Linked DNA regions of Homo sapiens. The protein of the gene in region 3 interacts with the protein of the main gene of each other region in a biochemical or structural test. Each region holds a gene or a part of one and is shown on either strand. Other genes may lie near its edges.

Region 1 (8,842 bases), on a different chromosome or scaffold from region 3:
CACCGAGCACTTTACACACATTCACGCACTTGAAACTGACCACAATGCTGTCAGACGGGCAGGGGCGTTGCTAGCTCTACTTTGCAAATAGGGACATGTGGGCTCAGAGTGGTCACCAGGACAGCAGCACCCACATTCAAGCCCAGCCCTATCTGTCCCCAAAACCCAGTTTCTGCCCTACCACCCACCTCACCCCCATGCTGCCAGAAACCACCCATCTCCTCTCCCTTGTGGGTGATCTAAAAGTCGTCCCTCAAGAACTGAGCCCTTAGCCAGGCTGGTCTTGAACTCCTGACCTCAAGCAATCCACCCACTTCGGCCTCCCAACGTGTTGGGATTACAGCTGTTAGCCACCGCGCCCAGCCCGTGGTGGTGCACGCCCGTAGTCCCACCTACTCAGGAGGCAGGAGAATTGCTTGAACCTGGGAAGCAGAGGTTGTAGTGAGCTGAGATTGTGCCACTGCACTCCAGCCGGCGCAACAGAGCAAAACTCCATCTCAAAAAAAACAAAACTGAGCCCTTGAAGATGAACGTGAATTCCGAGGGAGTGAGCAGAGTGTGTGGGTTTGGTGCCTTGAGTTGCACAATCTCTCAGGCAGCAGGAATAGATCCAGTCCGTCCTGGTTTCAGGCAAGATGAAGGGAGCTTGTGTCTACAAAGGGCTGGCAGCTCCCATCCAGAGCATGGCTGGGCCTGATAGAGCCACACCTGGAAGCATTTATAACCACACCTGACAGCTCCCTCTGGGGTGGGGCACCCCCAGCTCCCGTCTGGGCCAAGGTGAGCAGGCAGAGGCAGATGAGGGCCCTCCCTGGCTCCTGACCTCACCTCGACTTTATACAGCTGGGGATGGGTGGGGCTGGGAGCACTGGGGAGCAAAAACCTGGGGCTTTCTGATGCTGTCCCATGGGGTGTCAACCAGGAGCTCCCAAATGAGACCCACTGGGCTCATGACAATGACCCAGCCAGGGAGGTGAGGTAGAAGGCAGGGGTCCTGTCTGCCTCCCACCATTGGCTCCCGAGAGCCCCAGGAGTTCAGAGGCCTTTCCAGGAGTGATCTCAGATTCATGGTCCAGCCCCAGCTCTTCCCTGATGGGGAGCAGGTGGGTAAGACAGAAAGGCATCTAGGGCCGGTGGCTCACACCTGTAATCCCAGCACTCTGGGAGGCGAGGCAGGTGGATCACGAGGCCAGGAGATCAAGACCATCCTGACTAACACAGTGAAACCCTGTCTCTACTAAAAAAAAAAAAAAAACAATACAAAAAATTAGCCGGGCGTGGTGGTGGGCGCCTGTAGTCCCAGCTACTCTGGAGGCTGAGGCAGGAGAATGGCGTGAACCCGGGAGGCGGAGCTTGCAGTGAGCCAAGATCGCACCACTGCACTCCAGCCTGGGTGACAGAGTGAGACTCCGTCTCAAAAAAAAAAAGAAAGAAAGAAAGGCATCTAGGTCGGGCGCAGTGGCTCACGCCTGTGATCCCAGTGCTTTGGGAGGCCTAGGCAGAAAGATCTCTTGGGGCCAGGAGTTCAAGACTAGTCTGGGCAACATGGTGCGACACCTGTCTCTACAAAAAATTTAAAAATTAGCCAAGTGTGGTGGCACACATCTGTAGTCCCAGTGACTCAGGAGGCTGAAGCAGAAGAATCACTTGAGCCCAGGAGGTCAAGACTGCAATGAGCTATGATCACTCCACTGCACTCCAGCCTGGGCAACACAGCGAGACTCTGTCTCAACAAAAAAAAAAAAAAAAAAGGAGAGAGAGAAAGGCATTTATGAGCTCTCTCTCAAAAAGGAAACTGAGGCTCAGAGAAGGCATGAGGACTTGCTGCTTCCCCAGCTCATCAAGGTGAGTGGCCTGGAGTCTGCCCCGATTCTGGGCCTGGGCAGGGCAAGACTTCAGTGGCCTTGGCTCCCCATAGAAGTAGGAGGAGTGGAGCCTCAGTCCCAGGATAGGGACAGCAAGTACAGTGGGACAGAAGAAGTGGGAGGCCCTGGGTACTAGAGAGGCAGGAGGTTGGCTCTGAGAGCACTTTACCGGAGACAGCAGAAAGCCATTTAATCTCTGTGCACAGCAGTTTCCTTGTCTAAAAACCAGGGATAACAGGGCCGGGTGCGGTGGCTCACACCTGTAATCCCAGCACTTTGGGAGGCCGAGACAGGTGGCTGACTTGAGGTCAGGAGTTTGAGACCAACATGGCGAAACCCTGTTTCTACTAAAAATACAAAAATTAGCCGGGTGTGGTGGCTCATGCCTGTAATCCCAGCACTTTGGGAGGCCAAGGCAGGCGGCTCACTTGAGGTCAGGAGTTTGAGACCAACATGGCGAAACCCCGTTTCTACTAAAAATACAGAAATTAGCCGGGTATGGTGGCACATGCCTGTAATCCCAGCCACTTGGGAGTCTGAGGCAGGAGGATCGCTTGAACCCAGGAGGCGGAGGTTGCAGTGAGCTGAGATTGCGCCACTGCACTCCAGCCTGAGTGATAGAGTGAGACTCTGGCTCAAAAAAAAAAAAAAAAAAAAGACAAAAAAAAAAAAAACAACAACAACTAAAACAGGGACCTAAGTCAGGGGAGAAGGAAGGCTGGAATGGCCATGCCTACAAAGACAGGAAAGAGGGAATGTCAGGGTTGTGGCAGGAGCCTAGGGCAGCACCCTCCCTCCAAGCTGGGAGATAGGAGCCAGGATCCCATTGGTGTTTAGATGGATGAGGTAGGGTCAAGGGGCAAGCTCCAGGCTCTAAGCACTTCTGTGCAGACTCTACTACTTGGAGCTCCCCTCTCCCTCTGTGATGTGGGCATCAAAATCTGCAGAAAGGGAAACTGAGGCCTAGAGAAAGGAGGGGATTTGCCCAGAATGACACAGGAAGTCCAGACTAATTCAAGTTTGCGGCATTTGAGGTTCCTGGCCAGTGTTTCTTTTTCTTTTTTGTTTTTTCTTTTTTGTTTGAGACAGAGTCTCGTTCTGTCACCGAGGCTGGAGTGCAGTGGCGCGATCTCAGCTCCCCGCAACCTCTGCCTCCTGGAATGATCCTCGTGCCTCAGCTTCCCCAGTAGCCGGGATTACAGGCACCCATCACACCTGGCTAATTTTTTGTATTTTTGGCAGACACGGGGTTTCGGCATGTTGGCCAGGCTGGTCTTGAACTCCTGAACCCAGGCAATAAGTCTGCCTCAGACTCTCAAAGTGCTGGGATTACAGGTGGGAGCCACCACGCCCGGCCAACCAGTGCTTCTTAAGGAAAGATACATATAGTAGGAGATGTGACAGTAATCTTCCTCCTGGCCCCTCTCAGCACTGTGCCATGGAGGTTCTGATCTGGGCCAGCTGCGCTGTTAGGGGAAGGGGGAAAATGGCCAAACCCCATGTATTCTCCTTCCTTTTCCCTCTCTTCAATCCCAGGCAGGTAACAATAATTATGATGTACCAGGCTCCGGGCCAAAGTCATCACCTGCATTAGGTCACCAAATCCTCAGGCCAACCCATTACAGTCATGAGTCACTTAATAACAGACACATTCAACAAATTCCTTGTTAGGCAATTTCATCATTGTGGGAACATCTCAGAGTGGACTTACACAAACCTAGATGGTCTAGCCTACTACACACCTAAGCCATATGGTCTAGCCTACTGCTCCTAGGCTACAAACCTCTACAGCATATGACTGCACCAAATATTGAAGGCAGCTGCAACATGAGGGTAAGTATTAGTGTTTCTAAAGATAGAAGATGGCCAGGCGCGGTGGCTCACGCCTGTAATCCTAGCACTTTGGGAGGCCCAGGCGGGTGGATTACTTGAGGTCAGGAGTTCAAGACCAGCCTGGCGAACATGGTGAAACCCCATCTGTACTAAAAATACAAAAATTAGCCAGTGTCGCGGCACTTGCCTGTAGTCCCAGCTACTCAGGAGGCTGAGGCAGAAGAATCACTTGAACCTGGGAGGTAGAGGTTGGAGTGAGCCTAGATCAGGCCACTGCACTCCAGCCTGGGCGACAGAGGGAGACTCCATCTCAAAATAAATAAATAAATAAATAAATAAAACATAGAAGATGTACAGTAAAAACACGGTAATTGTTTTTGTTTGTTTGTTTTGAGACAGGGTCTTGTTCTGTCATGCGGACTGGAGTGCAGTGGCACCATCAGGCTCACTGCAGCCTCGACCTCCTTGGCTCAAGTGCTCCTCCCACCTCAGCCTCCTGAGTATCTGGGACTACAGGTCCACGCCACCATGCCTGGCTAATTTGTTCTGAATTTTAGTAGAGATGGGGTCTCACTGTGTTGCCCAGGCTTGTTCCAGCCTTCTGGCTTCAAGTAATCCTCCCACATCAGCCTCCCAAAGTGCTAAGATTACAGATGTCAGCCACTGCACCCAGCCAGTAATATAATTTTATGGGACCACCTTCATATTTGCTGTCCCTTGCTGACTTACACATCTTTATGCAATGCATGACTGTTACCATCATTATCATCTCTATTTTCCAGATGGGGAAACTGAGGCACAAAGAATCTAACTTGCACAAGTTCATCTGCTTAGTGATGGAACAAAGATGTGAATTCAGGCAGTCTGGCTTCAAAGTCCACACGCCTAACAACCACACCAGATTACTAGATTGCTTTTTTCTTTTTTCTTTTTTTTTTTTTGAGATGGAGTCTCACTCTGTCACCCAGGCTGGAGTACAGTGGTGAGATCTCGGCTCACTGCAACCTCTGCCTTCTGGGTTCAAGCAATTCTCCTGCCTCAGCCTCCCCAGCAGCTGCGATTACAGGCGCCCGCCACCACACCCAGCTAATTTTTGTATTTTTAGTAGAGATGGGGTTTCACCATGTTGGCCAGGCTGGTCTCAAACTCCTGACCTCTGGTGATCCTCCCACCTCGGTCTCCCAAAGTGCTGGGATTACAGGCGTGAGCCACCACGCCCAGCCCAGACTGCTTTATTTTTGTATTTGTATTTATTCATTTACTTATTTTGAGACAGGGTTTTGCTCTGTAGCCCAGGCTGAAGTGCAGTGGTGCAATCCAGCTCACCACAGCCTCTACTCACCGGGGTTCAAAGGATCCTCCTGCTTCAGCCTCTGGAGTAGCTGGGGCCACAGGCATGCACCACCATGCCCAGCTAATTTTTAAATATTTTTTGGTAGAAGTAGGGTCTCACTATGTTGCCCAGACTGGTCTCAAACTCCTAGCCTCAAGGGACCCTTCTGCCTTGGCCTCCCAAAGTGCTGAGATTACAGGCATGAGCCATGCACCCAGCCCCTTTTTAAAATTTTTTTGAGAGACAAGACTTTGATCTGTTGCCTAGGCTGGAGTGCAGTGGTGAGATCATAGCTCACTGCAGCCTCAACTCCTGGGCTCAAGCACCAGACTCCTTTTATCACATTCTATCTCACACGCGTGTGGTTCCAATCCTGCCTCTGCCACTTCTCAGTTGTATGCCCCAACCCAACCTGTCTGGCTCTGTCCTCCTTAACAGAAGGACGGCCCTGGCCACGGGCCACAGCCAGCAACGCTTAAGCACCAGGGCCGGCGAGTGCCCTGCCGTGGCACGGCTCCAGCGTCGCGCTCTCGAATTCATTTGCTTTCCTTAACGAGAGAAGGTTCCAGATGAGGGCTGAACCCTCTTCGCCCCGCCCACGGCCCCTGAACGCTGGGGGAGGAGTGCATGGGGAGGGGCGGCCCTCAAACGGGTCATTGCCATTAATAGAGACCTCAAACACCGCCTGCTAAAAATACCCGACTGGAGGAGCATAAAAGCGCAGCCGAGCCCAGCGCCCCGCACTTTTCTGAGCAGACGTCCAGAGCAGAGTCAGCCAGCATGACCGAGCGCCGCGTCCCCTTCTCGCTCCTGCGGGGCCCCAGCTGGGACCCCTTCCGCGACTGGTACCCGCATAGCCGCCTCTTCGACCAGGCCTTCGGGCTGCCCCGGCTGCCGGAGGAGTGGTCGCAGTGGTTAGGCGGCAGCAGCTGGCCAGGCTACGTGCGCCCCCTGCCCCCCGCCGCCATCGAGAGCCCCGCAGTGGCCGCGCCCGCCTACAGCCGCGCGCTCAGCCGGCAACTCAGCAGCGGGGTCTCGGAGATCCGGCACACTGCGGACCGCTGGCGCGTGTCCCTGGATGTCAACCACTTCGCCCCGGACGAGCTGACGGTCAAGACCAAGGATGGCGTGGTGGAGATCACCGGTGAGCCCCCCTGCTCCTGCAGGGGAGAGGAGGAGGCTAGCAGGGCGGGCAGGGCCGGGGGCGTGCGGTTGAAACGGGGGTCCCGGGGGCCTGGGGAGTTAAACGTTGGCCCAGCACCGGGAAAAACAGGACTCCTGATTCCCTTGCTCAGGAATTGGGAGTGCGGGTCGCTTCTAAGGGCGCTTTCTGCTCTGTAATCCCAGCGCTTTGGGAGGCCGAGACGGGAGGATCGCTTGAGGCCAGGAGTTCAAGACTAGCCTGGGCAACATAGCGAGACGCGCCCCCCCGCCCCGACCCCGCGCCATTACAAAAAAAAAGCAAACAAAAATTTTTTTAAAGATCATCGATGAAGAGAGAAAATGCGCTTTTCTACAGAGTCCCCTTCCCACCCACAGCCCCATCCCCAGATAAGCGGGGAGTTCCCTGGCGCGGTGCCAGTTTCTAGCCGCTGAGTGGGCGTGTGCGCGGCTCCAAGTGCGCCTGCGTACTGCTCACTCCCCAGCTCCGCGCCCTGCTCCGTTCCTCCCAAAACTCTGAATCGAAGAACTTTCCGGAAGTTTCTGAGAGCCCAGACCGGCGGGCACGCCCCCATCCCCAACCCCCTCTGTTAATCCCTACCAGCCTGCAGTCCTGGCTGCTTCCAAGCAGGAGGTGGGGCCTCTGGCCTAGCGGGGCCGAAAGGCAGTCCCCTCCCCCGCAGTCTGATTTCCCTCTTCCCCCCAAAGGCAAGCACGAGGAGCGGCAGGACGAGCATGGCTACATCTCCCGGTGCTTCACGCGGAAATACACGTGAGTCCTGGCGCCAGGTCGGGGTGGGTGGGTGGCGTGGGGGTGGGGTCAGGGAAGAGGGCACAGGGACCCACCCGGTGTGTAATGTAACGCTTGCCTTTCCTCTCTGCACGTCCAGGCTGCCCCCCGGTGTGGACCCCACCCAAGTTTCCTCCTCCCTGTCCCCTGAGGGCACACTGACCGTGGAGGCCCCCATGCCCAAGCTAGCCACGCAGTCCAACGAGATCACCATCCCAGTCACCTTCGAGTCGCGGGCCCAGCTTGGGGGCCCAGAAGCTGCAAAATCCGATGAGACTGCCGCCAAGTAAAGCCTTAGCCCGGATGCCCACCCCTGCTGCCGCCACTGGCTGTGCCTCCCCCGCCACCTGTGTGTTCTTTTGATACATTTATCTTCTGTTTTTCTCAAATAAAGTTCAAAGCAACCACCTGTCACTGGCCCAGGCCCTGGTGTTTGTGGAAGGAAGCCTCAGGCACCTGCCATTTGCTGGCTTTCAGGAGTCATCTTTGCTCAGGCCCGTGCTGGGCCATGTGGGTACACTGGTGTAGGTTGCTGGACACAGGCTGACTCACATCCATAAAGACAGAGGTCTTAGGGCCGGGCGCAGTGGCTCATACCTACAATCCCAGCACTTTGGGGGGTTGAAGCAGGAGGAGTGCTTGAAGCCAAGAGTTCTAGACCAGCCTGGACAACATAGTAAGACTGTCTCTAAAAAATAAAAATTAGGCAGGGTGGTACTGCACGCCTGTAGTCCCAGCTACTCAGGAGGCTGAGGCAGGAGGATCGCTTGAGCCCAGGAGTTGTGAAGGGTACAGTGAGCTAACATCGTGCCATTGCACTCCAGCCTGGGCAACAGAACAAGATCCTGTCTCAAAACAACCAAAAGCCCAGAGAGAAAGAGTGAGACCCCATCTTTAAAAGAAAAAAAAAAAAGGTCATGATTGCAAGGTCACGATTGCAATTAAAACTGTAAGGTGGGGAAGGAGGAGGAAATAAGAGAAGCACCTGAGGCTTGAGTTCTCAGGAGCACCTAGGTTGGGTCCCAGGTGAAGGGGCACAGAGGTAATTGCACCTCAGAGCTGATGGGAGGATTACTATGTCAAAAGCTTGGCATCGGCTTCAGCACACCCCAAGGACACCACAGTGGACCTGGCAAGCTTTGAGATCTCTGTCACCGCCACACTCCCTGAGGCCAGGGCATCCCTGTTGGCAGTCACAAGGGAACTGGCAAGCCGAAATGGGGTGAGAACGGAGCCCGCAGAGTCTCGGGGTGGGGAGATTGGGCAGAGCCCTGGCCAACCGACGGGCTCAGACCTGTGCTGCTGGCTGGGCCAGCAGCTCTTGTTGCCTGTGTTTATTTCCAGCTGGCCTCCCTCCAGGTGTAGACAGGCTTCCAAGGGCCCAGTTCCCCTCTCTCTTGTCTGCCCTTGCCCTAGCTGCCACCCTCTCACCAGGCCCAGGGAAAGTTGAGGTAGAAAGCAGATGGGGGACCAGGCGCGGTGGCTCACACCTATAATCCCAGCACTTTGGGAGGCCGAGGCGGGTGGATTACCTGAGGACAGGAGTTCGAGACAGCCTGGCCAACAGTGAAACTCCGTCTCTACTAAAAGTACAAAAATTAGCCGGGCATGGTGTTGCATGCCTGTAATTCCAGCTACTCAGGAGGCTGAGGCAGGGGAATCGCTTGAACCCAGGAGGCAGAAGTTGCAGTGAGCCAAGATCCATGCCACTGCCCTCCAGCTTGGGGGACAAGAGCAAAACTCCATCTAAAAAAAAAAAACAAAAAACAGATGGGAGCTTTGGAGCTCAGTCCCAAGGTCCTCAAATATTTGAGGGACCCAGAGTCTGAGGCTGTAGCAAGATACTCCCATGTTCAAGGC
Region 2 (4,810 bases), on a different chromosome or scaffold from region 3:
AACACTTCTGAAGGAGGAAGTTGAGAGTCTTAGGCCAGGTCTTGAAGGAGGGGGTATCAATTAAGCAGAGACTGATTGGAAGGGGACCTAACGTAGCCTATGATAGACTCCTTTCTGAGGTTTACCTGTTTTTGTCGCGGGCGGTGGCGGGGGCGGGGTGCGGTAATCTAGAGAGGTCTGGGTTGTGTGAGATATTTTGAGTTGAAGAATCTATTTGACTAGTAAAAAAGTTGAACTTTAAAGTGGTAGCTTTGGGGACAGAGGACATGGGGGTTGCATTGCAGGAGTCAGCATGGAGCAGGGTGCTTGTCACACAGTTTGGATCTTGTGGTTTCTTACGCATGGGGCCAAAATAAACCCAGGTGAATGGCCTATGGGAGGGAGAGAGGGAAGGGAGCTTGCTAGAGCCGAGGTAGAGATGAGTTCTTTGAGAAAGAGCGGGCGTTTGTGATTGTGTAGGGGGCTGCCCATAGTGGACATCCTGGTGGATGTCCTCTGTCCTTACCATCCTTTCTCTTCTCTCTCCAGGGTAACAAGATGCTCAACTATAGTGCTCCCAGTGCAGGGGGTTGCCTGCTGGACAGAAAGGCAGTGGGCACCCCTGCTGGTGGGGGCTTCCCTCGGAGGCACTCAGTCACCCTGCCCAGCTCCAAGTTCCACCAGAACCAGCTCCTCAGCAGCCTCAAGGGTGAGCCAGCCCCCGCTCTGAGCTCGCGAGACAGCCGCTTCCGAGACCGCTCCTTCTCGGAAGGGGGCGAGCGGCTGCTGCCCACCCAGAAGCAGCCCGGGGGCGGCCAGGTCAACTCCAGCCGCTACAAGACGGAGCTGTGCCGCCCCTTTGAGGAAAACGGTGCCTGTAAGTACGGGGACAAGTGCCAGTTCGCACACGGCATCCACGAGCTCCGCAGCCTGACCCGCCACCCCAAGTACAAGACGGAGCTGTGCCGCACCTTCCACACCATCGGCTTTTGCCCCTACGGGCCCCGCTGCCACTTCATCCACAACGCTGAAGAGCGCCGTGCCCTGGCCGGGGCCCGGGACCTCTCCGCTGACCGTCCCCGCCTCCAGCATAGCTTTAGCTTTGCTGGGTTTCCCAGTGCCGCTGCCACCGCCGCTGCCACCGGGCTGCTGGACAGCCCCACGTCCATCACCCCACCCCCTATTCTGAGCGCCGATGACCTCCTGGGCTCACCTACCCTGCCCGATGGCACCAATAACCCTTTTGCCTTCTCCAGCCAGGAGCTGGCAAGCCTCTTTGCCCCTAGCATGGGGCTGCCCGGGGGTGGCTCCCCGACCACCTTCCTCTTCCGGCCCATGTCCGAGTCCCCTCACATGTTTGACTCTCCCCCCAGCCCTCAGGATTCTCTCTCGGACCAGGAGGGCTACCTGAGCAGCTCCAGCAGCAGCCACAGTGGCTCAGACTCCCCGACCTTGGACAACTCAAGACGCCTGCCCATCTTCAGCAGACTTTCCATCTCAGATGACTAAGCCAGGGTAGGGAGGGACCTCCTGCCTACTCCAGCCCCTACCCTGCACCCACATCCCATACCCTCTTCTCCCTACCCATCCCATTCCCCACAGGCCCTACATTAACAAGGTTAAGCTCAACCCCTTTCCCCCAGCACCTCAGAATGTGCCCTCCCTCTCCCCCTCATAACCCCACCTAACATAAGGACAAGTCAATTTGTCAGTAGCTTCTTCTGGCTTGAAACCCCCTCCCTGGATTTTATAGCCCACTTACCATGCATAACAGACAAGTCCCATATTTTGTCAGTAGATGCCTTTTTTTTTCCGGCTTAAGCCTTAAGTGCCAAATCACAAGAGAAAAAGCAGTAACAGTTTACAGAAGCAACTTAGTGCCTTGTAATCTAACTTTGTCACTGTGACTACATTACCTCTTCAGCGCCAGAGGGCACCCGTGGGCCTCCCGGAGCCTCTGCCCATGGCGGGGTGGAGACCCGGAACCAGCAGCCCCCTCCACTGGCGACACAACTGCACCTTCCCTCATTTCAGTCTCCCGCACACTTATTCCTCCTCCCCTCTTCCCGGTGGCACCTCTCCACCTGTACCCGCCCCCCCACCCCCCCCACCCCTGCCCCTTGGAAGAGTTGTTGCCAGACCAGGGTTTTGGGGGAAACCTGTCTTGACATTCAAAACCTTTTTCTTCCCGATCTGAACCCCTGTTGACTAATCTTGCCTGGGTTTGTGTAGGTCTGCAGGAAGGAAGGCTGAAAAAGCGGACGAAGATTTTGACTTAAGTGGGACTTTGTGATTTAATTTTTTCTTTTTTTTAAGTGGGGAGGAAGGGGAAGCTAGATGGACTAGGAGAGACTTGATTTTGGTGCTAAAGTTCCCCAGTTCATATGTGACATCTTTTTAAAAAAAATAACAACAAAAAAAAAATGAGAGAAAAGCTAAAAAAAAAAAAGTAAGGGGTGAGCAGTTAATGGTATTCATTCCACATACAATATCTGTGTAAAACGATTTCCTGTAGAAGTAGCTTTAATGGTTTTTGCTCTAGAATACCGTAGGTCTATCCTTAGAGCACTCACGCCATGCTTTCTTCCCTGGGTTTTAAACTTCATATAACTTTCAGAAATTGGAGAGCAAAAATTTTGCTTGTCACTGCACATCAATATAAAAAAGCTTATTTAACTTATCAAAACGTATTTATTGCCAAACTATGCTTTTTTTTGTTAATTTTGTTCATATTTATCGGGATGACAAATCCATAGAATATATTCTTTTATGTTAAATTATGATCTTCATATTAATCTTAAAATTTTGTGACGTGTCTTTTTCCTTTTTTTCCACAGTTTTAATATATTATTCTTCAACGACATTTTTTGTAACTTTACACTTTTTTGGTTATTTTATTTTAAAAAAATGAAAAATTAATTTAAAAAAATGCAAAAAACTGTTGGATTATTTATTTTAGAAATTCCCCCCTTTGTGTTGGACTGCAAATTGAGTTTCTTTCTCTTTAGGCCTTTCACAACTAGGACTGAGAATGTATGTAAAAGTTCTGTGACAGTACAGAAGGAAAACAACTTTTTATGTATAGCTTCTAAAAGGGGAAAAAAAAAAAAAGAGAAACCCTTTGACTTCCACGTGCCCATCTCAAGACATTCCACTCACAGATTTGAGGTTCTGGATTCCAGGTCTGGAGTTTTCCAATGTTAATGTAAACAGAACTGGCACACACACATTAAGATGAATGTAATTATTATTCCTCTTGCTGGTCACTACCGTCGCTTTCTATTTCTCTTTCTTTGTGTGAATTTATTTAAAAGAAAAAAAAACTTTTTGTAACGACTATTTGCAGTTTAAAAATCAATAAACCCCGTTTTTTCAAGAAACATTGATGGTGGAGCTGGTTTTACTTGGTTTTGGTTTGACTTTGCCAGTAAGGTTCTCCCCTTGTATACCTTGCAAGTCCTGGGTAGGGGGAGGCGGAGAGAGAGGGCTGTGGCTGTGGGTGGCGGCATCTCTCATCCCTATAAGCTAAGCCTATAGCTCCCTTCCTTGATGCTGGCAGTTTGCTGCGCTTAGAGGGGACGGGGTGGAGGTTTTCTGCAAAGGAGCCTGTACTTCCTGCTGTATTACTTCTGAAAAGACTGTGCAGTGTGTTAGTTGTTGGCTGAATAGCAGCGGGCCCAGCCTTGCCGACACTTGTGTGGCCTCTGCGGTTCTTCTGGGGAGCCAAGGCTCAGGGCCTTCCAGTCCGCCCCGTCCAGCCTGTGCTCTTCATTCCTTTGGATGGTGTTTGGGGTGCCAAAATGATAAAAGAGGACCTAGCACTTGGCACACTTGCAGGCTTGGATTTGAGTGAGTTCTTTTATTGGGGTGCCTTGGGCTCATTTTGCCCATAAGAAAGAAATTTACCTCAGTACTGGCCTCTCAACACCTACCCGTGTGGGGAGGGTATAAGGAAGCACTGCCTGCTTGGAGAGGAATGTCCAGCGGGGTGAGGGGCTCAGTCACAAGGAACTGGGAACTGGGACTGGATTTGACATAGCCTTTTGGGTTTGGAGGGCTGTTAAGGGGAAGTGAGTGTTAACACTGGCCAACACAACACAGCAAGTCACCAAGGGTTCCCACCACCTTAGTTACAATCTCAGGTGCTATGCAAAATTAGGTATGTCGTCATCTTGGGAAAGGTGGGGTCTCCTTGGCTAGATGCACCCCCACCAAGGCTAGATGACCACTTAAGAGGTGGCATTTCACCCGCCGGAGGAGTTGGAACTTTCACAAATCTTGAGTGTGAGCCTTGGGAGGATTTATTTGGGGAGAGGCAGAGATTGCTATTTGCAGCTCACTTGCCTTTGGTTCCTTTACACCCAGGAAGTTTTGGGAGTTCAGCTGAGTCACCATGATTCCACCAGGCCTCTTCCGAAGGTCTGCAGCAGACATTGGGCAGGCCAGGGATGTCCCTGAGACTCGAAGACCTACCTCTACTCTCAACTCATTTCCCTGGTCATCAGATATCTACTGGGGGTCAGGGGGTGAGGTAGAAAAATAGGGACTATTACCTGTTCCAGGGCAGGGGCTGGTGGTTTAGGAAGGGGAAAAGCAGCCCTTCTTAGGACTGGAGTAAACCTAGGCCTCTTGTCCCTTAAGGAGGAAATGAACTTTGTGTGTGTGTGGAGGTGGTGGTGGTGGTGGTTGGTGGTGGCATGTGATCTTCCTTTCGGAGTAAAAGCAAAAAAGACATTTAATCATTCACCTTGAGCTCATTCCCTGCAGGCATACCTGAGCATGTGGCAGACACCTTTCTAACTTCCCCTCTCATGGTGACGCTGGTTAGGTT
Region 3 (8,904 bases):
GACCTTGGGGACTGGAGTTGGGTGAATACAGTTTGACCACAGTTAACCTGTATCATTGAGGAAGTGACAGACGGTCTTTACAGGAGTGTTTGCTGTCCCCTCTGAGACACCATCTGCCTTCACCCATTAGTAGTTTGGGGACACTGGCTGTTCATTCTCTTGGATATTTGGAATATTATGTAAAGACTTCAGAACAAAAGCTCCCAACTTCTGCTCTGTATTCTGTTTAATAGACACACGCACAAAATCATCCTATAAAATGCTTTTGAGTGGCAATTCAGATTTCTCTTGTAACTAACGAGAGAGAGGTTTACATATTTTTCTACTTTGAATAGTTTTGGAAGGAAAAATCCAGCAGCGTGTTAAATAACACTCATAGTTTATCCCTCTCAGGTTAGAAGTGGGCGAAGAGTGAAGTCAGTCTGTTTTGACAGGCAGCCTGCTCCCAGATCTTTTAAGTTGACTCAACTGTTAAATTGTGGATTTCCCACACACGTCTTTGTGTTAAAACTTAATAATGGAGGAAGAAAGGAGAGACAAGGCATTTGGAGACTGACAGCAGTGTTAACAGCACTTCCATATCCAAATATTGGCTGAGACATAATTACAGCTGTGGGGGGAATCTGGTTCAAAGAACGCTGTTCCAGAGACACACACCAAAGAGATTTCTAGATCTTGAATTTTGATTAACCTCAGGTGCTGAGTAGTGAAATGGTTTTCAAAACCAGAAGTCTAGTGATTATAAAGCAGGAGAGGAAGATGGAGTGGGGCAAGAGGGATTACCCCCTTGGGAAGGTGCCTGAGAAAAGGGGAGGAGACCTCTATTCTACAGTGTGCCGAGGCCAATGCTGGGGGCTAGGGCAGAGCTGGAGGGCAGGAGCCCAGCCTCTGCTGGGGTTCAGAAGTCTGCTATGTTGCAGCCCTGAGAGTTGATGGGAGCTGGCAGCTGCTTAGATGCTCTCCTCTCTGCCTATAGTCGGTGACCTCTTAGCCCTGTTAAGTGAAATCAGCATTTGAAAAAGAGTCCCAGCTCACCCTGCTGCTTCTCTCCCTCCACCTCAGAGAGCTCCCATTTAAATGCTTTTGGTGGGTGCTTTGACCTCACCTCACCATCTCTCCTGGCTGCTTTTGCTAAGTTCTGAGTCATGCTTCCAGTCAGAGTTGCAAGGGACTTGAAAGGTCATTTTGTCCAGCCCCCTTATTTTGCAGAAGAGAAAACCAAGGCCCAGAGTGAGGGAGTGACTTGTTCAAGGTACCATAGCCATTCACTTGGCAGAGGCAGGATTGGAACCCAGGTTGCCTGACTCCCAGTCTCAGGCTTCTTCCCACTTACTTCCTAACTGAGCCACGGGCTCAGGCACATGGCCACCTGCTGCTCCAGGGTGCTTCCAGCCTGAGGAGCTGTTCTGTCACCTCAGGCCCTGACTGACAAGAGGGGAGGTCAGCGAAGGGGGCTGGATGGGTATTTGCTGCTCCTGAGAACAGTCCCCAAAGTTGGAGGGGAACTTCAACAGTAGCTTCATGCATTTTTTTAACCACTCCCTCCCCCTTTTAAGAGAGTATTTGATAGGCACCTTACTTACTATTTTTTGTACAAGAACATGGGAATTCTATTATTTTTATTTTTATTTTTTTTGAGACAGAGTGTTGCTCTGTCGCCCAGGTTAGAGTGCAGTAGCACGATCTTGGCTCACTGCAAGCTCTGCTTCCCAGGTCCACGCCATTCTGCCTCAGCCTCCTGAGTAGCTGGGACTACAGGCGCCCGTCACCATGCCCGGCTAATTTTTTGTATTTTTAGTAGAGATGGGGTTTCACTGTGTTATTCAGGATGGTCTTGATCTCCTGACCTCGTGATCTGCCTGCCTCAGCCTGCCTAAGTGCTGGGATTACAGGTGTGAGCTACCGCGCCCGGCCTGTATTACTTCTTTGATAAGGACACCTAGTCTCAACCCACTTGTGTATTAATTAGTTGTATTCCCCGGGAGGGTTCCTCAGCTGCTTGCCGCTTCACTGTGTCATGGTGACCCTTAGGTGTTAGCTCAACAAATTTAATTAAAGACTGTATCGTTGTTCTCTGCTGTGCAACTCTGATTAGGTGAAGCATGTTACTGCTTTATAAAATATAGAATGTTGTCGTAACTTATCTCTGTGTATCTTTCCATTGCGTGGATTAGAGAAAACAAGGTCCTGTAGTTTCTTTTCCTTTCCTTTCTCCAGCATTCCTCTCTCCCTAGGTCATGGAAGTGCCACTGCGATGTGGCTTCCTTTGTTCTGGTGAAGGGGAGATGATTGGAGCCTCTCATGATTATTCTGGATGCTGTTGGAGGGAAATGCCAGAGCTCCCACATCCCCACAGTACAGGCACCATCTCCTTTCCAACACACCTCATACTGTGTACCTGTGGAGGGCAAGACAGTTAGTGTGGCTAGGTGAGAGGCAGTGTCCCAAACTGGAGTTTGCTGGAGTTGTCACAAGGTTAGGAAAATTTCATTGACCAAGCCAGCCTCTTTTATATGCAATATGGTTACAGGTAGGTAACAGTTTGCTGAATATCTATCATAAGCTTAGTTGCATGGAGGATACACATGTAAAAAATGGCCTGTAAAATTTTGAGTCAAGAAACTTATTTAGAGAAGGTGAAATTAACACATGTAGGCTAGGGCTGCACTGTCCAATCTGGTAGCCACTACCCTCACATAGCTAATTAAATTAAAATTAATTAACATGAATGGATTAAACTAAATTAAATTTGAAAAATCAGTTGCTAGCCACACTTCAAGTGTTCAGTAAACATGTGGCTAATGGCTATCGAATTGAACAATGCAGAAGAACATTTTCATCCTTGCAGAACGTTCTCCTAGACTTTGTTGGTCTGGGAGCTAAATCGTGTGGCTGGGAATAGAGGAGCTTTGAAAGAGGGGAATCTGTGGTGACTCCAGGAGCTAAGGGAGGCTCCAGCTGGGGTCAGTGGGACATGGCTGTGCCTCTGAGGAGTGAGCAAGTCTGTGAGAGGTGTGGTGACATTGGCCTGGCTAGAACTGAGGGGAGGAACAGGAGGTCAGAGTGGTCAGGGGTTGGTGGCTCCAAATTGAAGCTAACTCATCTTGTGTCAAAGCAGGCTTTAAAGTGTTTGAGGGGCATGAAGGTGTCAAAAAAGGTTAGGAATCATTGAAGATGGGCTTACAGAATTATGAGGGAAGGGTCAGGTTTGTGGTTTCAGAGATCCTGTCCCTCCTGGCCGTAGCCCTGACCCCAGCCCTGACCCCTGGCTCCTGCAGCAGGGCCCTTGGCATCCACTGAGGCAAGATTGAAGCTGGGTCAGCTCACTGTCCTTTTTTACTTGTGAATTCTGGGCTTTGACTGAGCTTGGAGACAATCTCCAGCTAAGATACGGGATCAGTGGCTGACAGGAGGGGAGAGACAAGCAGTCCCTGGGCCTTAGGGCCAAATATTGGTGGGTGTCTAGGAAACAAAAGAACCCCTTTGTGGGAGGAGGAAGGTATTGGGACCTGTGATGTTTCTGCTACTTGGGACCTGAGAGGTTGGGCCATCCATAATTGATGATTTTTCTTATGAAGCAGGTACAGGGGATTGGGAGGAGGGCCTGGAAGAGCCCAGCCTCAGAACTGCTGGAGGCAAACTTAATCCTTGGGCTAGGGGAGGGGCCAAAGCTCCTGTTAGCCAGAGCCCAGGAGTGTGCTGAGTGGGTGCCAGGAGGAATGTCAGCCAAGATGGGGAAGAGCAGGGCACAGTCGTCTGCATCTGAGCCATTGCCCAGTTCCCAAGCAGCCTTGCCATGCTCTGAGCTGGGGTTCTTCCTGGTGGCGTGATGTCTGTGGTGCAGGATTCACTCTATTCTCCTACCTTTCCTCTACTTCAGGCCCTGCCAAGTGTCATGTGAGGTCTCTTTTCCCCCTCTTCCCTGCACTGTATCTTTCCAGATGGTTCTGTGTCCTGGAGGGAGGTGGATGGGCAGAGAAGAGTTGTTCTTTGCAGGGACTGCAGCTTTTCTTGGTAATGGTTTGAGGCCCAGTGGCAAAGCAACCCACACTTCATAGTAACTTAGAACCCACACTCCCTGGTCATCTTTCTTGACTCCTTGCACATCACTGAGGAAGAAGCTGGCCTAGTGCAGAAATGTTCAGTGGCATGTCCAAGGTCTTACATGGTGTCAGCATCCGAGCCACATCTTGAGACCTGGTTCCCTGGGACCTGCTCTTGGTCTGGGCCCCTTTGGTTTTTGGTTGCTAGAAGACTGTAGACCTGGTGGAGCAAAACTGAGCTCCACTAACGCATCAGCTAGGATCTTTCCACATGGGTTACCTTGTAAATGGGGGCATTGGTGAAGAGAAGGGGCCATGTCACTGGACAGTGTAATAACGTATGGCAGTTATAGAACCCAAATCAGATTGCTGTGTACCTTTTCTAGTTTTTAGGAAAATACTGGTATTTTGTATTTTAAGATATATATATATATATATATATACACACATACACAGATATAGATATGTAGAGATGAGCTTGTTACCATGGGTTATGTGCTAGATAAGAAAGCAAAAATAAGTGCATACATAAATAGAAAGCTTCCAGTGTTTGTATGCTGCTAACAAGTTACATGACCTTGAATAGGTCAGCTAAACTTTCCAGGCCTCATTGCACAGAGGGTCGGCTCGAGCAGCTCCTGAGCACCGGCAGGGTGAGGCAGTAGAAGGCGGTGCTGCAGGCCAGAGGTGGAGGGCAGGCAGGATAGCTTGCTGACTTGCTCCGGGTCTGACCATCAGCAGTATCTGGGTCAGCACAGATGCCCTTTCGTAAGCTTAGTGCCTGGCTCCAGGGCAGCCTGTGTCCAGTTAATGAATAATCATCACTGACCAGCTGCTCCTTCTCTTGTGTGAAGACTTAGAAAGTGTTCTATGCTGGTGACTCGGCAGAGAGGATAGACTACGTAATTTAGCAGGGTGTGCATCTTCTCTTTCCTTAAAATCAGAAGAATCATAGTGTAGTGGTGGTGCAAAGTAGAGATGAGGAACTCTATTCCCTGTTTGAGATTCCTTTCTCAAGTTATGGGGCATTTGAGGGCCACTGTGATTTCTGGTGCAGGCTGTTCCCTGTGCACAGGGATCTGGTTGAGGAGCTAAGCGAAGGCTGAAGTCCAGCCACTGTCTCCTTGCTTGGCTTTGTCTTTGTGTGTGGCTGGGTTCTTTCAAAGGAGTGCCTTCTAATTCACCAAAGGTATGGTTATGGATTAGGGGTTGTTCTTAGGTTAGAGTTGGGGACTGATTCACAGAGCTGATGAGGAAATTAGGATTTACATTCAGGTGACCCTCAGCCCCTCAGACCAGGCTGAGTAAGAAGAGATATCAGGAATCCAAGGAAGCAGGAGGAAAAGGGGTTGCCTGGTGATGTCTGTTCTCTTTCCTCCTCTTCCTGCCCATGCAAGGCTAGAGCAGCTGTTTCAGCCCCGGAGGTTTAGACTGTGGGGTCCTGTGTGCTGGGCCATCAGGTTTGGTGGGAGGAGGAAGAAAGCCACAGTAGAAGGAGACATAAAGTTGGGCTGGGCCTCTGGCAGTGAAAGGTTCTTGGGGTCTTTATTGTCTGATCAGTAAACACCTCTGTGTGCCAGAATGAGCTGGGACAAGGCCCCAAGGTCAGCCCATATTTGTATCTGGTGTTCTCCTCCAAGACCAGCCAAGCTGTGCGCTCATTCTGCTGGGAACCTGAGCCCTCCAAAAGGGTCATATGAAAGGGCATCTTATTCTTGAGGGACGTTTCCAAGCATCTCTGTGGCCAGTGTCCATCCAGGACTCATCTTAGAGGTGAAGAGTGGTGGCCAGAGGCGGAAGCTAGTGGCCACCCGATGGGAGCCTTTTCTGTTTCAGAGCATATGAGGGAGCTGAGGGAGCTGTACTGTTGATGCCTTCTCTCTGGCTCATCTCCATGAAGATTCTTTTGAACCAGAAGCAAAGGTGAAGTCTCTCTGAGGGGAGGGGCTGAACAGGAGATCTACTGACTGTCCCCCTGCCGACTCCTCCACTTTCGTCCTCCGGCGGGGCTCCTTATCCTCCTGCTTGTCTACAGGGAGAAGATCGAGTTGTTCGTTTGCTGCCATTTTAATGATCCACATTGTTAGGAGGCTCTCAGTACACACCGGACCTTAGCAGCCTGGCCTCCTGCCCAGGGCCCAGAACTGTTACTCAGCCCCTCTGCCGAACAGCTAAAAATAAACCTGCCACTGCTGCAGTCTCCCCTCACAGCCAGGCCCTGTTAGCTGTCCCAGTGCTTCCTGCCACACCGCTGACCTGTTTCTCTCACTTTCTGCTGATATTCTCCCTGCTTGCCCCTTTCTCTTCCAGCCTGAGCTTGGTAGGTGATTTGGGGCTAACTCACTCTTCTGAGTGCTGGGAGACGTGCTATGGTTTTTATGTCTCCAGGTGTCTAGATTTGTGTGTATGAAAGCTCCGTGAAGCTGTCCTGCTTATTTCCCAGTAGGGAAAGGGTTAGACAAAAAGGAGAGTGACCAAGCTCATCAGAGTGGATCAGACCTTCTACTGTGCTCGCCTCCAGCCCTGGCTTCCTCCAGTTTTACCTCCAAGCAGGCCTCTTTGCCAGAGTTACCTGGTTATGGTAACAGAGTTACCATAGTTATATGCTAGGACAGCCCCACATGGGCAGTCTGCCCCAGGCCTTCAACCCGACTGCCCTGTCACCGAGCATGCTACCTACCGTGTACTCCTGCCCTGTTGCTACGTTATATTCTCCACCTCCGCAGTGTGAGGCTTTGGGCTACCACATTCAAAAGTGTGACCTCATCTTGTCAGCGTCCAAGAATAACTGGGCCCTGGCTCTCAGGATCTCCTTCCTGAGTCAGGCCATGGCACCTCTGGCCCTTCCAGCTCAGCCACATGCAGAATGTCACCGAGTGCATGGGTTTCTTCTACCTCTTGACTGCAGTATTGATGTGTGTCCATGGAGGTGTGGCCTCTTCCTCTACTCCCCAGGGATCCTGGAGACTTGTGGAGCAAGATGAGGAAAGGGGCTCAGGTAGCTAGAATATTTGCTTAGCTGATAGATACTGGGCAGAGTCTGACATTGGCATTCTGTTCTTCAGCGTGGCGTTAGTATTCTTTCTGATTTTTTCTAATCCCTAGACAGGTGTTGATACTAATCGTGGCCTAGGAGGGCTCTATGTCTGCTTTCAGGAATTATGGTTTATTTGGGGGAAGGGGTGTATGGTGGAGAGTGATGGCAATGACAACCAAGACATAGGACTTGAGGAACCCACTGCCTTCAGCTAGAGTTACATACTCTGACCATGTGTCGATGGCCTCCTTCTCCCACCTCTCCCCTGGGGCCACATTTCCTCTGCAAGGAAAGATTTATCTGCCAAGGCCCATTGGCCTGTGCAGAGGAAGAGTTGGGCATAGTTGCTAAGTGTTTATTTTTAACTCTGACAGAAGGAGCCCCTGTCCTCAGAATAGCCATACCCTCTGTCTTTCCCTATCCCGACTGCCTTCCTTGGCTTCTGTGATTCCTAGAAGAAGGTTAGTAGGATTCTAAAGGCCAGGCTTCACGGGAGCTGGAGAAGGCTAGCTTCTCTAAGTGAGGAATCTGCAGGTTGCTCGTCATGCTTGGCTTCTGCAGAGCTCAAAGGGTCCTGCGGGGAGAGCCCTGGACACTAAAGGCCGTGTGTCTGGAACTTGGAGAATTCTAGGAATGCAGGTGACCTGATGAGGAGGCTGCATGTGCCCTGCAGCTCAGAGCAGCCTGGCTGCACAGCTGAGTTGGACAGCCCAGCAAGGGGTCATCCCATACCTTCTACATCCTTACAGGCACCCAGATCTCTGGCAGATGGGGAGGCCACAGGGAGAAAATGAGCATATGTAGTAACCTGCCCTGGAAACACTTGCGCTTGCAGACACGCCAAGTGCTGTCATTCCCTCTGACTGCCAGGCTCACGAGCATCATGTCCTTTCCAGCAGAGCCCACCTGCGACTCTTAGTGACTTCATACCCTTTGTGTTCTCTTCCCCTGATGTGCTTTAGTGACCTGTGCTCACAGAGAGGAGGAGGAAGGGTGGCAGTGCCCCCTCTCCTGGGTCTCAGACTTTCCTGACTTTATGCATTTGATTTGGCTACCTGGGCTCGGATACTTTAAAAGAAAATAAAATTAGGTTTGAGGTGTAACCAGAGAGAGAAGGAATAGAGAGTAGTAGGGGGTGGGATGGGTGGTTGAAACATGTGGCTAACTCTGAGAACCCTCAGCTATGGAAGGAAGGTCTTGCCCCCATGATTCTTCGGCGTGCAGTGGGGGATTAGTTTGCCCAGAGCCCAGCTCTGATCATGTAGCTTCCCAGCTTAAGCCCTTCAGTGGGTCTCTCTGCCTGCAGAATACATGAGATATCCACATCTTTCCCAGATCTGGCCCTGATCTGTTTTTTTTTTTTTTTTTGGAACACATGCTTTTTTTTTCTCCCCAGCTTAAGTGGCTTATATATGTTGTTTCTTTAACAGAACTGTGCTTTCCACCCCCACACCTTAGCATCTATCCATCTGCATCTTCTCTGTACCATGCCTGTCCCCCGTCCTGTCTATATCTACCTTTTCCACCCTGCACAGATGCTGCTTTTCCAGAGCCTTTCGCACCAAAAGTGGGTCTTCCCATCCTTCCCCATCAAACTTGCTGATACACTCTTACCTTTTATTTCTCTGTTTAAGTGCATTTCTCCATGTGCAAGGCATCTCTCTCTCTCTCTCTTTTTTTTTTTAACAGGAAGGTAATTTATTAACGGAAAATATTTGAGGAGTCCTGTGCACAGTGACCATGGCAACCCCCCTTCCTGCGGGTGCTGTCAGAGGGGTTGGGAGTGACGTCCTCAATCTGTCCGATCTTCATACCTGAGCGGGC

What was found.
Region 1: of the proteins of MAPKAPK2 (region 3) and HSPB1, one has a biochemical effect on the other in vitro, tested with the Homo sapiens proteins (17 studies listed by BioGRID and IntAct, with this or other methods).
Region 2: of the proteins of MAPKAPK2 (region 3) and ZFP36L1, one has a biochemical effect on the other in vitro, tested with the Homo sapiens proteins (2 studies listed by BioGRID).

What each region holds. Positions count from the first base shown.
Region 1 is NC_000007.14:76,296,902-76,305,743, forward strand, and holds HSPB1 (heat shock protein beta-1), read left to right. Parts: upstream 1-5,771; 5' UTR 5,772-5,811; coding exon 5,812-6,175; intron 6,176-6,900; coding exon 6,901-6,964; intron 6,965-7,082; coding exon 7,083-7,272; 3' UTR 7,273-7,391; downstream 7,392-8,842. UniProt on the Homo sapiens protein: Small heat shock protein which functions as a molecular chaperone probably maintaining denatured proteins in a folding-competent state. Plays a role in stress resistance and actin organization.
Region 2 is NC_000014.9:68,786,211-68,791,020, reverse strand, and holds the end of ZFP36L1 (mRNA decay activator protein ZFP36L1), read left to right. Parts: intron 1-528; coding exon 529-1,488; 3' UTR 1,489-3,359; downstream 3,360-4,810. UniProt on the Homo sapiens protein: Zinc-finger RNA-binding protein that destabilizes several cytoplasmic AU-rich element (ARE)-containing mRNA transcripts by promoting their poly(A) tail removal or deadenylation, and hence provide a mechanism for attenuating protein synthesis.
Region 3 is NC_000001.11:206,687,020-206,695,923, forward strand, and holds part of MAPKAPK2 (MAP kinase-activated protein kinase 2), read left to right. Parts: intron 1-8,762; exon of another isoform or gene 8,763-8,904. UniProt on the Homo sapiens protein: Stress-activated serine/threonine-protein kinase involved in cytokine production, endocytosis, reorganization of the cytoskeleton, cell migration, cell cycle control, chromatin remodeling, DNA damage response and transcriptional regulation.